Regions from separate parts of the Homo sapiens genome. Here all the other regions are reported to be linked to region 2. Evidence: microRNA targets listed by miRTarBase, many of them from high-throughput screens and not tested one by one. Region 2 holds a microRNA gene; each other region holds the end of a gene's coding sequence.

What was found. Region 2 holds the annotated microRNA hsa-miR-302c-5p (UUUAACAUGGGGGUACCUGCUG, at 2,171-2,192, opposite strand). A microRNA usually pairs through its seed, bases 2 to 8, with sites in the 3' UTR of a target mRNA and lowers its output. Matches are read on the target gene's strand: a 7mer-m8 pairs with bases 2 to 8, a 7mer-A1 pairs with bases 2 to 7 and ends in A, and an 8mer does both.
Region 1: the mRNA of SHC4 is a reported target of hsa-miR-302c-5p. Seed matches in the 3' UTR shown: 8mer at 4,174-4,181.
Region 3: miRTarBase lists PEX11A as a target of hsa-miR-302c-5p. Seed matches in the 3' UTR shown: 7mer-A1 at 2,980-2,986.

What each region holds. Positions count from the first base shown.
Region 1 is chr15:48,821,259-48,826,258 of GRCh38, forward strand. It overlaps SHC4 (SHC adaptor protein 4), which reads right to left. Exons shown (of 12, transcript NM_203349.4): 12 at 2,483-4,868. The coding sequence ends at 4,713. Among named protein-coding and RNA genes, the nearest start is that of CEP152, 13 kb to the left of the region's middle.
Region 2 is chr4:112,646,232-112,651,231 of GRCh38, forward strand. It overlaps MIR302C (microRNA 302c), which reads right to left and starts at 2,199; the gene lies at 2,132-2,199. It overlaps LARP7 (La ribonucleoprotein 7, transcriptional regulator), which reads left to right. Exons shown (of 13, transcript NM_016648.4): 3 at 120-220; 4 at 357-440; 5 at 560-724; 6 at 803-896; 7 at 968-1,318; 8 at 1,459-1,603; 9 at 3,304-3,455; 10 at 4,230-4,351. MIR302CHG (miR-302/367 cluster host gene) reads right to left here and starts at 3,820. Exons shown (of 3, transcript NR_146092.1): 1 at 3,761-3,820; 2 at 2,282-2,368; 3 at 489-737. MIR367 (microRNA 367) reads right to left here and starts at 1,710; the gene lies at 1,643-1,710. It also overlaps MIR302D, MIR302A and MIR302B. RefSeq lists an enhancer at 2,640-3,362.
Region 3 is chr15:89,679,365-89,684,364 of GRCh38, forward strand. It overlaps PEX11A (peroxisomal biogenesis factor 11 alpha), which reads right to left. Exons shown (of 3, transcript NM_003847.3): 3 at 2,171-4,584. The coding sequence ends at 4,013. It overlaps PLIN1 (perilipin 1), which reads right to left and starts at 3. Exons shown (of 9, transcript NM_002666.5): 1 at 1-3.

The DNA of each region.
Region 1 (5,000 bases), not on the chromosome of region 2:
TGCATCTTGTACGTATTTTGTTAGGTTTACATGCATGTCCTTTTTAGCAGCTGTAAATAGTATTGCATTTTAAATTTTGTGTCTATATGTTCATTGTTAATATATAGAAATGCAATTTAATTTTGTATGTTTATCTTGTATCCTCTAAGCTTTGCTAAACTTAGTTCTAGGAGGGATTTTTTTGGTCATTTTCTGGATTTGGGGATTTTGAGGGTTTTTGTAGATCCTTGGAATTTTTTGCACATAAACAATCATGTTATCTGCAAATAGGGACAGTTTTATTTCTTCTTTTCTGATCTTTAAATAAAATACCTTTTATTTCCTTTTCCTGTCTTATTGCACTCTCTAGAACTTCCAGTAGTATATTGACAAGAATAGTGGTAATAGATGTCATTGTCTTGCTCCTCATTTTAGGGGGAAATGACTCAGGCCATGACTTTAAGTATAATGTTAGTTAGCTGTAGGTTCTTTGTAGATTTTTTTTTTAAGACATGGTCTCACTTTATTGTCCAGGCTGGAGTGCCAGGGCACAGCTATGGCTCACTGCAGCCTTAGCCTCCCAGGCTCAAGTGATCTTCCCATGTCTGCCTTCAGAGTAGCTGGGACTACAGGTGCACATCACCACACCCAGCTAATATTTTAAAAATTTTCTGCAGAGATGGGGTTTTGCCATGCTGCCCAGGATGGTCTCAAACTCCTGAGCTCAAGCGACTGCCTGCCTTGGCCTCCCAAACTGTTGGGATTACGGGTGTGAGCCACCAAGTGTGGCCTCTGTAGTTGGTGTTTATTTATTTTTAGTTTACTAAGAATTTTTATCATAAATTGATGTTGAATTGTATCAAATGCATTTTCTGCATCAATTGATATCATGTGATTTTTCTTCTTTAGCTTCTTAATATAGTGGATTACAGTGATTGATTTTCAAACATTGAACCAGCCTTGTATTCCTGGAATTAACCTTACTTAGTCATATTATGGTGCATAATTCTTTTTATATATTGGGGAATAATCCTTGCTAATATTTTGTTAATGATTTTTGATCATATTCACAGAGATTTCATCAGTAGTTTTCTTTTTTTTTGCTGTTTTTGTCTGGTTTTGATGTCAGAGTAATTTTACCTTCAAAATATGAATTGAGAAGTATTCCCTTCTCTTCCATTTTCTGGAAGCAATTGTATAGCATTAATGTTATTTCTTCAAATGATAGAATTCTCCAATGAAACATCTGAGCCTGGAATTTCTTTGGGGGAGGTAATTGTGAATTCAGTTTTCATAATAGTTATAAGGTTATTCAAATGATCAATTTCATATTGGCTAAATTGTGGTAGTTTGTACTTTTTGAGGAACTGGTCTATTTCATCCAAGTTGTTGTCAAATTTATATGTGTAGAACTGTGTGTTGCATTCCCCTATTATTCTTTTGATGTTTTCAGAGTCTGTAGTGATAAATTCTCTTTCATTCACAGACTAAAACCGTTTGTCCCATTAGTAAGACTATGGCAAACTACAGACAATTCATTTTTAACACTAATATGTCGATACTTAAATATTTTCCACAGATGCAGATGGTATATTTCACATGTGTTTGACATAGTGATTTCATATTATAATTTTTGTCGGTCTATAATTCCAATCATAAAAGGTAACAGGGTCAGGTTCATTACTTTTCCATATATAATTACAAGTAATAAAATGGCAAAATTAGTAGAAGGAATTGCAAGAAACATGAAGGTGGGATTAAAAGTATCTCTGTAAGATTGAAATGCATTTGAAGTTGTTCTTGAGCAAAATAACCAATGCTTCAAAATATAGCTTGAGTTTTAATAATAGTAACAAGTTGACATTTTTGCTGTAATTCATTTATGGTTACCTGAGAATCTGGACTTATTTCTCTGCAAATTAGCTTTGCCTTACTGGCTAACCCAAAGCCTCTCTAATGCTTTTAGAAGCTTGACTCTCTTCAAAGTCCTCTGTGCTAGATGTACTCCATTTATTTGCCCTTCCAGATCTCCCCCTCTAGTCTTTTCCATCCTCCTCTGTTCCCAGGAGGCTGACCTCCAGAACTGCATCAAGGAGCTCCCTTGCTCTCTGTCTTCAAGTTACTTGGGCCACTGGAGAATCCCAGCAGGAGACAGATAGGGGGAGCAGAAAAACGTTGGGTTATGAATGCCCCTCACTGCCTCTTAGTTGAGTCAGCAGGGCTGATTGCATTCCTCCACTACAGGCCACAGCTCCTAAAAGGCAGCCCTTGCACACAGCTCCCTCTCCAGATTCTGTTAGCTGTTCTTTCCCTTTCTCCCTTAATTGGCCCCAAGGCACTGCATTCTCCCTCCTGATTTCCCTAAACTCTGCCCACACCTTTGTAAATAGTCCCTTTAATAAACTCACCTTGAATTATCCAGTTTGATTGAGCCAATGTGTTTCCCTGATACATTTTACAAATGACAGTTTCCAAATCCCAAACATCAGACATATTCTGTCAATTGTCACAAAGCAATAATCATTTATTTTTTAAAGTCGTTTACAGGTATTTATAGGCAAATGGATTTCCACTTTAAGACAGATAAAGAATGTGAGATTAAAATAGCATGCAGACATTCCTTTTATTGTTTCCTTTTGCTTTAACTGTGTCTGTGGTATTTTTAAGTGCTGTATTTAACTACTATACTATTACAGTCAAATACTGATTATCCATGTGTACTGCTGACACCATTTACAGTCATTGCATCTATTTGTATCAGGAACTCTTGCTACCAAGTTAATACTCTGCTCAGCTAGAGTGAGACCACAGCCCTGCTCTGTCTCTGATAAAAGTGGTTAGACTACCCATACATTTCTACTGTCTATACTCATGCTGATCCCCTTTTTAAGGACAAACGATCAAGACCTAAGGTATATGGAAAACTGGTGAAAAATACATTAATTCTAGTTGTGTAAGAGGAAACAAATCCATCTAAAAAATTAATGGCAGTAGAAATAAAAATCATAAGCCTTTACAGTAAAATATTAGAGTGCAGTATGCTTGGTTTCTAATGATTTCTATCCAAAAGAAGTTTTATTTAAAACTTAGCAAATATATCACAATCACAAAGACTAAGTTGTATCTACATAGCCAAAATGAAATGGAGTCAAGGCAATATCCAGATAACTCAAGATTAAAAAAAAAAACAAAAAACATTTTTCTTGGAAAGGCAAGAAAAGGACATAAGTAGTTTTCTGCTACTCAAACCAAATCCACTTTTATCATCATTCCCTATATTCCAAAGTTTCAGTATTTTAGACTGAATGGTTTGGAGTCTAAACTATGTGAATGTTGATCTCAGGTGTGCCATTCATTCTGTGAGTATGGACACAGACTATAGAAGAAAAGCTTAATTTTTTACCTTAACTATACAGACTGGTTATCAATAACGACCTCTAACAAATGAAAAACTTGCTTTTTAGAGACTCATACTATAAGTTAGGACTGAAGTAGTCCTCCAAATTCACCTAGCCCATTTAGCTCATTTTATTGCCAAGGAAACTGGAACCCAAACAGATTCAGCAACTTGCTGAAGGTCACACTGGTAAGACTCAGCGTAATGCTTTTCTGTACACCATGCTTAATCACTCTGTTAGTTTACCAGTTGGTCTACATGTGGAAAATCTTTCCAAGTGCTTCATTCAATATGTTTTTTTTTCCTTCTGCATTTTGTCTGATCATATCTATACGAGGTGCTAAGGATATATGTAGGTGAGAAACTATGATTCAGTGTCAGCCAATCAAGAAGAAATTTTACTATAATTTCAAATAGATTCTGTACTTTTACTAAGAATGAAACCAATTTGAATAGTAAATATGAAGAATACTGGTTTTGTTTGCCCTCTTTTAAATCCATGCACTCATGAGGTTTTTTTTGTTTTTTTTGTTTTTTGTTTTTTGTCTTTTTAGCAGGAAGAGGGGGAGAATATAATGAAATCAGAAATGACTGATAGATTTGGCTTCTTCAGCTTGTCACATGCTGTATTTAGACAGTCTGAATAGCAAACACTGAGAAATGCTAGGCCAGAGGATTTGGGCCCCAATCCTTTTAACCAGCAAATGGGACAGTCCAATGAAACAGACAGCCATGTTAGTGGCTTTTGATTTGATTCCACTGACATACACACAGTTCGAATTCAATGTCATATTTATTTTAACATTGCAGTGAAAAATGCTGCTAAACAGAAAATGTAATAAAGTCAATAAGGCTCAAGAAAATTGCTTATTTTTTGTAGCAAGAAAAGCTTTTTTTTTTGGCAAATGGTTCTATAGTCATAGAACATGAAGATACTTAGAATTAATCTCCCAATATGAAAATGTCCCCCAAATTATCAAGTTGAAAGGCACATACCACTGCCCCAGCAGTTCATTCAAGTTGTCGTTAGCATGTGAAATTTTAGTTGTGCTTTTAGCTTGTTATCAATGCAATATGGCCTTAAAAAGTGACATCCGTGCATACATATAATTTCTTTTAAAATGACCAACCCTCTTCCTCTTTTCTGATTTTCATTTCTGAAGACTAATTTTTGTTAGTTCTTCATTTTATAGAGGACCTGGTCCATGATGGTCTTGGAAAGATGCACTTCACAGTTTGTGCTCTATTTTATCTACAAACAAAGTTTAAATTATCTTTGTGTCCTAATACAAAATGGGGTTTCTTGAAATATCAGTGTGATGGTGCTTCAATACTGTCATTTGTTGGAATGCAAAAGTGCTGGATTATTATCTTTTCTCACTGGTTGTTTAAGGCTTACTTCGCTTCCAGAGGAGATGATTGGCAAACTGTTATCCATATGGTATCTGATAAGGTGGCCGACATTATCAAATACATGATCCTTGGTCCTCACCTTGAAAAAGAAGTACAAATATATTTAGGTTAAATTATAGTAGTTCTCCTGAAAGATATAAATAATAAGGGGGAAAATGCCAGATATATCCCTAAAGTAGATACTTTGCTGAAAAAAGAAAAGGTACTTTTT
Region 2 (5,000 bases):
AGTACTAGGATTACAGGCATGAGCCACCGAGCCTGAGGGCCTGAGGGGCAGGTTAAATTGTACCAAATTGAATTAATCCTGCTGATACACTAACATATTAACTTTTTCATTTTCTTTAGATGTTGATATATCACTACTTGTGTCTTTTAACAAAATGAAAAAATTGACTACTGATGGGAAGTTAATTGCCAGAGCATTGAGAAGTTCAGCTGTTGTAGAGGTAAGAATCAAGAATAACTACTGTTTATATTTATAGTTTATAATTATAAAGAATGTTAACGTAATGATTATTATATGATTATAGCTTACAATTATAAATAATATTAGTTTTATTAATGTAATATACTATTTTAAAGCTTGATTTGGAAGGCACCAGAATCCGGAGGAAAAAACCTCTGGGGGAAAGACCAAAGGATGAGGATGAACGCACAGTGTATGTGGTAAGCTTAAGAACCCGGGTCCCCAGTCAGAAACTGGCACAGAAACAATATAATTAAGTTAAAAATTTATTGACATTCTGATTGTGAAAAACTCTAATATTGCTTTTAATTTATAATAGGAGTTACTTCCCAAAAATGTTAATCACAGCTGGATTGAAAGAGTATTTGGGAAATGTGGCAATGTTGTTTATATAAGTATACCACATTATAAGTCTACTGGAGATCCAAAGGGATTTGCGTTTGTGGAATTTGAAACAAAAGAACAAGCAGCAAAAGCAATTGAGGTAAGTCCAGATCCTAAAAAAAAAAAAAGAAAGAAAAGAAAACAAGTATTAAAATAGTAACTTTTGCAATCATTTCAGTTTCTTAACAACCCACCAGAAGAAGCACCAAGAAAACCTGGCATATTTCCTAAAACAGTGAAAAATAAGCCCATTCCAGCCTTAAGAGTTGTGGGTGAGTATTTTTCAATATTTAAATAGGTGTAGTTGAAGTAAGATGAACTAATAATGATGGCACTTTTACAGAAGAGAAGAAAAAGAAAAAGAAGAAGAAAGGCCGAATGAAAAAGGAAGACAATATCCAAGCCAAAGAAGAAAACATGGACACAAGCAACACCAGCATCAGTAAAATGAAAAGATCCAGACCCACATCTGAGGGCTCTGACATTGAGTCCACTGAACCCCAAAAGCAGTGCTCAAAGAAAAAGAAAAAACGGGACAGAGTTGAAGCATCTAGCTTACCTGAAGTCAGAACAGGGAAGAGGAAGAGAAGCAGCTCTGAAGATGCAGAATCCCTAGCTCCCCGATCAAAAGTAAAGAAAATTATTCAGAAAGACATCATTAAGGAAGCATCAGAAGCTTCCAAGGAAAATAGAGGTAAAACTACAAGGTTTTAATTAGATAAAACTAATTAATTTTAATTAATTAGTTTTTAATTAATTAGGTTTTAATTGGCTTCTGTTTCACCCATTTCACAGCCCCATGTCTTAACGGAGAGCTTTTTTATTTATTTCAAGATATAGAAATCTCTACTGAAGAGGAAAAGGATACTGGAGATCTAAAAGATAGCTCTCTCTTGAAAACAAAAAGGAAACATAAGAAAAAACATAAAGAGAGACATAAAATGGGAGAAGAAGTTATACCATTAAGAGTGCTATCAAAGTAAGTCTGTGGTTTAAATTCTGTCATTGGCTTAACAATCCATCACCATTGCTAAAGTGCAATTCCAATTTATATTCAACAGAGTTGCATATTAGCAACAGTAATGGCCTGTAGCCAAGAACTGCACACAGTGTGGGCGTTAACGCAATTGCTGATTAGGTAGGAACCACCACACTCAAACATGGAAGCACTTATTTTTGTCATGTCACAGCAAGTGCCTCCATGTTAAAGTAGAGGGGGCCCCTTAACAGATGTAAAAATACAAAATAAAGCTTAAATATATGAGCTGCGGTCAATACAATAAAGTTATTTTCTAAAAAAATAATAAAAATGTAAAAGGAAGACTTACCATCACCAAAACATGGAAGCACTTACTTCTTTAGTTTCAAAGCAAGTACATCCACGTTTAAGTGGTGGGGAGCCCAGTCTTGGAAAAAGTTAGAATCCTTTAACCTGTAACAAGCTTAGTAACCTTAAAACACAATAACAAAAAAATTTTGTAACAAAAGGTGTGCTGGCTTGGAGACACCTCCACTGAAACATGGAAGCACTTACTTTTGTTTCACACAGCAGGTACCCCCATGTTAAAGCAAAGGGGATCCCTTCAAATGAGGTTAGCGTGTTCTATTTTGGAGAAGTAAATTGGATTCACTCCTACTAAAACATGGAAGCACTTACTTTTAAAGTCACAGAAAGCACTTCCATGTTAAAGTTGAAGGGAGCCCACCCAACATACAACTTCTTTGGACTTCAGAGTATTTAGAGCTGAGGAGAAAGAAAACAAAATGGCATAACTTTAGAAGAAAAAAATTTTTTTACCTTCCTGAACTAGTTCCCAAAGATTCGTGTTCTCCTCCAGAAGGGTAAAAGGCAGGGACTTCAGCCACTTCTATTTATACTATTCTTAACTCTTGAATTCCTTTTGCCTTTTTATCTCAGAGAATCATTACAAGGGCCTTTTGTTATTTTAATGTATCAGCTCTCAGGGAATGTATGATCCTGGGTGGGTCTGGATCCTTTTTTTTTTTTTTGAAGTATACAGATGTCAATGTTAACAGCTAAAACCATTACCACAAGATATCTTCCTCTTAAAAAAAAAAAAGAAAAAGAAAAAGAAAATCTCCTATCTGCTTGTTTGATGGCATAGATTAGGGTAACAATGAGTGCTCCCACTGAGCCGAGAAAGGCATTGTGTTTCTATCTGGAGGAACTCTGTTTGAAGAAGCATCTACATGTTAAATGTATGTAAATAAATAGATTGCTTCCACGGGGTGTTTTGTTCTACTTAGAAATTCTTTTTGATTCAAGTAAATACTAAGGAATGTTATCTCTCAAATTGGAAGCAGTTTAACAAATCTTTAATCTCGCCCTTTTCCCACAGAGATGACTGATTTAGTAAATGTTACTAGTTAAGGAATTAATGCTAAAATTTTACTTTTATAAATTAAAATACTTCAGACACTCAAAAATTTAATTGGCAATCTTAAAACATTTAATCTGAATATTGGGGGAAGAGGAACTCCCTTAGCTTATTTTGCTAAATGTCTTTAGAACCTAGGAAATATTTTGAATATGTGTTTAAAGAAACAGGAAAGTTGGTGGAGGAGTTGCTCCAAGTCATTGTGAATGTATATATTTAGATATTTCCCTATTTACTTTTTATATTTAGTCATCTGTTATCACCATTTCTTTCCTTGTAGGAGCGAATGGATGGATTTGAAAAAAGAGTATTTAGCGCTACAAAAAGCTAGCATGGCTTCTTTAAAAAAAACAATATCCCAAATAAAATCAGAGTCAGAAATGGAAACAGACAGTGGAGTACCTCAAAACACTGGAATGAAAAATGAAAAAAGTAAAGATCACTGATAGTTTTGACAACATTATAATGTACTTATATATGTAAATGCTATCTCTGAGTTGTTATAAGATAAATTTTAATTTTAAAAAACTTGATTATTCTATTTCATTATTAGAACAATTCTTGATTTGTTAAGTTATCCAGATGTGTTACTTACTCTTGATATAAGAATATTTAAAAGGCTCATTTAAAACAATTTTTTAAATAACCTGAGTTTTCTCTACAGTTTTCATCAAGCACATGAGTGCAGAGTTTGCAGACTGAGCAAGTTTGTAGGAATGAAGATTGTAGTTTCTCACCTGTTAATTTCATTCTGTAGTATGCACCACAAGCAGGAACAAGTTAAAGCAGAATTCCTATGAATTCAAAATTAGGATACATTTTAAATTCTCATTTCTTGTAAAAATAAATGTTCACGTTTGAATAATAATGTATTTAAAACACAGTATCCTTTAACTTTTTTTTAACTTTATTGAGTAAAAATTTACTGTTCCTTTGTTCAGGGAGAAGGGGCAAATTTAAAGGCTTTACGAATGCTCTTCTAGCAGTAACAATTTGCATGTAGAATAATAAAACTTTCTGAGTTTTATTCATGGTATTTTGAAATAAGCAGTATGACATATAACCTTTAATTGTTTACTTTAAAATTAAATACGTTTTAAATTATTTAAATCTGCCTCAGGAATTATTCTAAGGTAGTCCTCCTAAGTATTAAATTGTTGTTAAGTGTAAGAGATTTAGTCCTGGTCTTTTTCCTTTTCTAATCAGCAGCCAACAGGGAAGAGTGTCGCACCCAGGAGAAAGTTAATGCAACAGGACCACAGTTCGTGAGTGGAGTGATTGTGAAGATCATTAGCACAGAGCCTCTACCTGGCAGGAAACAAGTCCGGGTAATGATTTTGAGCCCCTAGGGTATTTGTTCCTTTCTTCTCTTATTATTTCCCTGTGTGAAAATGTTTTGAATATGGAAGATAAAACAAATCAAGTTAGAATTTGTTTCCCTATGGTAAACTACTGTACAGTTTTAATTCCATGGTAACTCTTAGGTTTAATTTTGAAGCAAAATCTAGAGGCTGAAATTCCTCACTAAATCTATATGTAAGCACAGTTTAAACATCCTTCTCTATAGGAAAATTGTAACTTTTGCTTATTTTTATTGGCACTGATTTTTTTTGTATTACCTATGTGCTGATTATCTTTAAAATTTTAATTATAGAAAAGTAAAATATTTTTGAAAACCTCTTAAAATTTTTCACGCATGTGCCAAAAAACCCATACTTCTATATAATTTACGCTACAAATTGCTGTACATACAGGTTTATAATTTTTTCGCTTTATACAGTCTATCTTCTGTAGCCTTTTATACCACATTGGTAGCAATACTTTCTATTAGGGAAATTATATACTTTTAGGTGAGAGTACCATATCTTATTTACCCTTACCCTGCCTGTCACCCATTTAAGTGAATCCTTTTCTTTTTAAAAAGTGTGAAATGCTCTGTAACATACCACATATTTTAAGTATTTTCTTATACTGACA
Region 3 (5,000 bases), not on the chromosome of region 2:
AGTGTCTCCTCAGGCAGAAACAATTCCTGTCACTCCTGGGAGGCTTGGGCAATGCTGCTTCCACCTCCCAGCTAGAGGAGGGCAGAGAGGGAGAGACAACAGGGTCAGCCAGTTGTCATGGTTATATGACCCAGGGTTCCCCAGGCATATCCTAACTTCTCTAAGGACATTTAGCAAACAAGGAGGTAGGTGGCAGAGCTGAAGGAGATCCAGGCTCAGAGGACTTAGTATTCCAGAGCCATGAAGCATCAGTTCTGTAATGTTCCTGCCCTCAATTCACAAAAATCTGCTTTCCAGAAAGAAGGTATAGGGATAGACATCATTAAACTCAAAAGCTCTAAAGTTCTATATACCTCTGCAATCTTTTGGCTCCTTTTCCATAGAGGGTCTTGTGGGAGTTTTCAATCCATTTCTCTCATCTTTTCTTATTTACTAGCAAGACTGAATGCTGAACAGTAAAATTTAAACCCACACAGAAGAGTTCATCTGAATGTATTCATCTTTGATTATGGAGATAAATTGCCCTCAGTGAAGAAGCGACAGAGCCGGGAGTTGAGTTTTTGACAATATAGCCTTTGAGTTGAGGGAGGAATTCCCACTTCTTAGAATTCAAAAAAATTTATTGAACTTTACCTGGCCTAAGATGCTACCAGAATGAAGAGTAGGAGAGCCAAGTAGATTTTTATTCTCCTGGGTCTGGATAAGCGACAGTGTTGACTAGGATTCTATCACTAATCAAGAGCACCCAGACAGCCAAGAATTAGCACCACTCAACCCTTCTTTACCCAGGACTCAAGCACAAGCCCAAGTTCTAGTTCCTGGCTTTAGATATGATGGAGGACTATGGTATAAGCCATAGCTTTCAGATTAACTAAGAAGGGCCTCTTCATGAAAACAGACAATAGGAAAACAAAACTTATTTTCTTTGTTGCTGGTGGAATTATATGTATTGTTGACTCTGTTAAGTCACACAGTGTGGGCAAGAGAAGAAAGAGGCAGGGGTGGGGAATTATGAAAGATCCTTGGTAATAAATTACGTATCTGTGATGCAATAAAGTAGGGAATGAGAAGGCAGGAAAGGGAGGAGTCAAGCAGGGAGGCTTCAAAGGAGTAATACGCTATACGTTTAATACTTATTGATCCAACCTGTGCTTTTCAAATGTAAGGCAGTAGAGAAGACAAAGTATTTAAAGAAGTGGCCTCTGCCCTCACCTCAAGGTTCAGCACAAATTATCTGTGAGGCTGTGACTGGACAGCAACCTGAGCCAAAGGGCAGTTTTCAGCCTTCAGAGTAGTGGCTTTGGGCCAGAGGGAACATAGGGCTTTGTGCCTGAAAGCTCTGCCAAATCAAATAGTCCTTTGGCTGCTTTAGCTGGGAGTGCAGAATGTGGGTGAGAGGTGAGAAGTGGTGAAAGGGCCTAGGAGAGTCCCGAGGGAAGACAGAAGTGTTAGTTTTCTAGCAGTAGCTTGCAGGGCATAGAGTTCTATCTTCTTTCCTTCTCCGTACCTACCTGCTTTCCCTACCCCTCCACCAAGTGAGAGCAGGGACCTAGGTCATCTTGCTCACAAGTGGATACCCAAAACCATGCATGGCACTCAAACATTCATTGTTGAATAAATGAATTGTCAGGCAACAATGCTCAGTTGTGAATGTGCTGGGCTGTACATCTACGAAGAACTTCTTCGATTTTTGGCATCCCTCATGAATGTGGAGGCTCTGGGGTGGAAAACATTAGTTACAAAGAAGGATTCACAGGGTGGTACCAGGACACCATTAAGGTTTACACAAACCTCTTAGAAGAGGTAGTATTTCCCAAACTCCCCACCACTCACCATTGCAGAGGACAAAAGTACCAAGATGGATACCACTGTAACATAACATACCACCATGAATTCAAGGCAGACTTACCTAGGCAGAAGCCAGCCAGCGATTGACAGGGCTACTGTAGAGCACCATCTCCATGGCAGCAGTCTAGATGAGTTCATTTCAGAGGTCCCTCTCAACCCAGAGGCTCTACATCTCAATCTTTCTCCATCCTCCTCCTCAGCCTGGATCTTCTAGCCCAGAGCTCGCTGTACCAACTGTGTAGGCTGATTGAGGATTATCTGATGGATTGCCTTATGTTTAACTCTTCTCTCTTCCCAGAACACACTCACAGACACAAGTCAATTTTGTCTAGAAATTTATTGAACATAGTTAATCTATTACAGTAGAGGATCTGGACAATAAAAATAGTTATTTAAGCTTTTTATTTTCCCTGACCTAGTAGCTTTCATGTCTCTTAAAATTCCCTAAATTTTATTTCTCAAATCCCATATCGTGATTGGTTAAACAGACAGCCAAGAATCTGAGTCTATTTTTTGAGAATCTCAATCACATTTCTGGGAAATGTGACTTATTGAGTACATATTTATTTTCTCATTTCCATTCAGATAAATGACACAGCTTTGCTGGGAGGACTGACATCGGCCTCCTACCTGCTGGCATCCTATTTCTCTACCTCACCTCCCTCAAACTAAAGGATCTGTAACCACATATAAAGACCCACACCCAAGATGGCAGATAGGAACACAAGTCAATGTCATTGACTCAGCATTCCATTGTCCTCTTCACTGGCTTCCTCCTGCGCTTTCCACCTCCCTCAATCACCCTAGAAATAAGATGTCTGATTTATCGTAGAAAATTGTGACTCTCTTACATCTGGAGTATTCATGAAATTTTTTTGACTGGATAAATTTTGATGAAAATTAATGTAGAATTGCCTAAATTGTTAGAAGGATTTAAATAAAACAATCTAACTGATAAGTCTAAATACTGTCTTAATTTTTTTTTAAGACACAGGGTCTTGCTCTATCACCCGGGCTGGAGTGCGGTGGAAGCTCACTGCAGCCTTGAACTCCTGGGCTCAAGTGATCCTCCTGCTTCAGCCTCCAGAGTATCTGGGACTACAGGCATACTCCACCATGCCTGGCTAATTTTTTAACACTTTGTTGTAGAGAAGGAGTCTCACTACATTGCCCAGGCTGGTCTTGAACTCCTGGCCTCAAGCAATCCTTCCGCTTCAGCCTCCCAAAGTGCTGGGATTATAGGTGTGAGCCACCACACTCCACCCAGTTTTAGTTTTTCTAGAAAAGAATATAAACCACTGGACAAGGAAATTTCCAAATTATGGGAGAGTAAGAGGCAAAAAACAGGATTCAGGAGGGGATCACATTTCTACTCAATTCTGAAGACAGTGGGAGAGCATGGAGAGAACACTGGATTAGGAGTCAGAGGAATGAGGCTCTAGCCTCAGTTTTTTGTTTGTCTCACTGTCAGCTTCTTATCTGTCACAGGCTACATATAGGCACCCATTGTGACCCTGTACCTATTTTTATAAGTCCCTCCGGTCTGCTTCTGATTTTTGCTTATTCACTGCACCCATAGACACAATTTATACCATGAAGGTGCCTGATGCTTTTCTGATTCTACTTCTGCACAGAGCAAGGACATGAGTGCAGTGATGGTATAAGGGCCAACAAGTTGAGAGGCTGTAAGCCCAGCTCTCCTCCATCCTGCTACTGACATCAGAGCCTCTACTAGATCTGAGAGTGCCATGCACCAGACCTACTGTAATCGTGAAACCAATGATCCATATGACCCTAAAGTTATTGTATACTGGTGTTCAATGATCAGTGCGATTGGGTCTTTTTAAATTTTTTCCTTTCAATTTTTATTCATTCAGCAAATACTAAGCTCCCACTATGCACATAAGAGATGTTCAATCAATGTTAGATGAAGGGAAAATATTCAGAAATTCACAAGTCACTCCAGCACTCCAAAAACATACAACTCTTCATGCTCCTCCCTTCTCCGTTCTTGGCCTCATCTCTGCCCACATCACAGGTTGTTAAATGCTCACATGAACAAGAACTTAAGCACAGTATGACATGGCCTGTGACTTATACAAATGTCTGTCCCACCAAGAGGCCATCTTTTAAAGTAGGTACTAGTTCCAAGCCTAAAAACACCCTAACGGGTCTTCAGCTTCATCTGAGGATATGCCACAGTGATCATGCCTGCTATAGAGGACACAAGACCTCCAAGTCCAATGATGCCAGGATTGGATTTATAGATCCCCAGCTGGTCCAAAGGGTTCAGGATATCACAAAGGTTCTTCACTGTGTCCAGGAGCAAGGGAGGATGCTGCTTCAGAGATCGGAATAAAAGAAGTAGAAAGGATTGGAGCCATTCTGTTTCCTCCTCAGCCACGCTGAACCAAAGAGGATCCTGGGATGCTGATTTCTCTTTCTTTGCCCTGTCACATGTAACTCGTTTCATCTGCAGGGAGATTTCATACAGATCCCTGACCAGGCTCAGCAGAAGAGAATAGTAGTAGTGGTGAGCAGCCCTCGTTCGCCATTTCTCTTTGTTGATGCCAGAGGTGAGACCTACGCTCCTCACCCAGAGGATGGTGTCACAGATGAAATAAATCACACGGTTCAGGTTGGCTAATGTTAAGCATAAGCGAGGTACCAGGTCAGTGGCATGAATGCTCTGCTCAGTTGCCTGTATAGCATGTACCACATTGCCTAGTCTGAACCCTGCAAGTAGAACCCACAATAGTGAACAGTTATTTCATTAGTACACAACAGGAAGATAGAATCCCTGTATCAGGGTGAGGAGCCAGCTTTTTGTTGTTTTTTGTTGAGACAGGGTCTTGCTCTGTCACACCGGCTGGAGTGCAGCGGCACCATCACAGCTCACAGCAGCCTCAGTCTCCTGGGCTCAAGCAATCCTCCCACCTCAGCCTCCCGAGTAGCTGGGATTATAGGCACGAGCCAGTGTGCCCAGCTTAGCACTGGTCTTTTTAACAACTGATGGTCATTAAAGGCTCAGCCTTTGTTCAGAAAAAGAGAAAGATTTTACAGTACATTAAGGACACCTAAAGTGATCTTGGAAGGCAAAAAATACAGTGACTCTTTAAATTTACCTCCTCCATTGTAATGAACACCTTAAT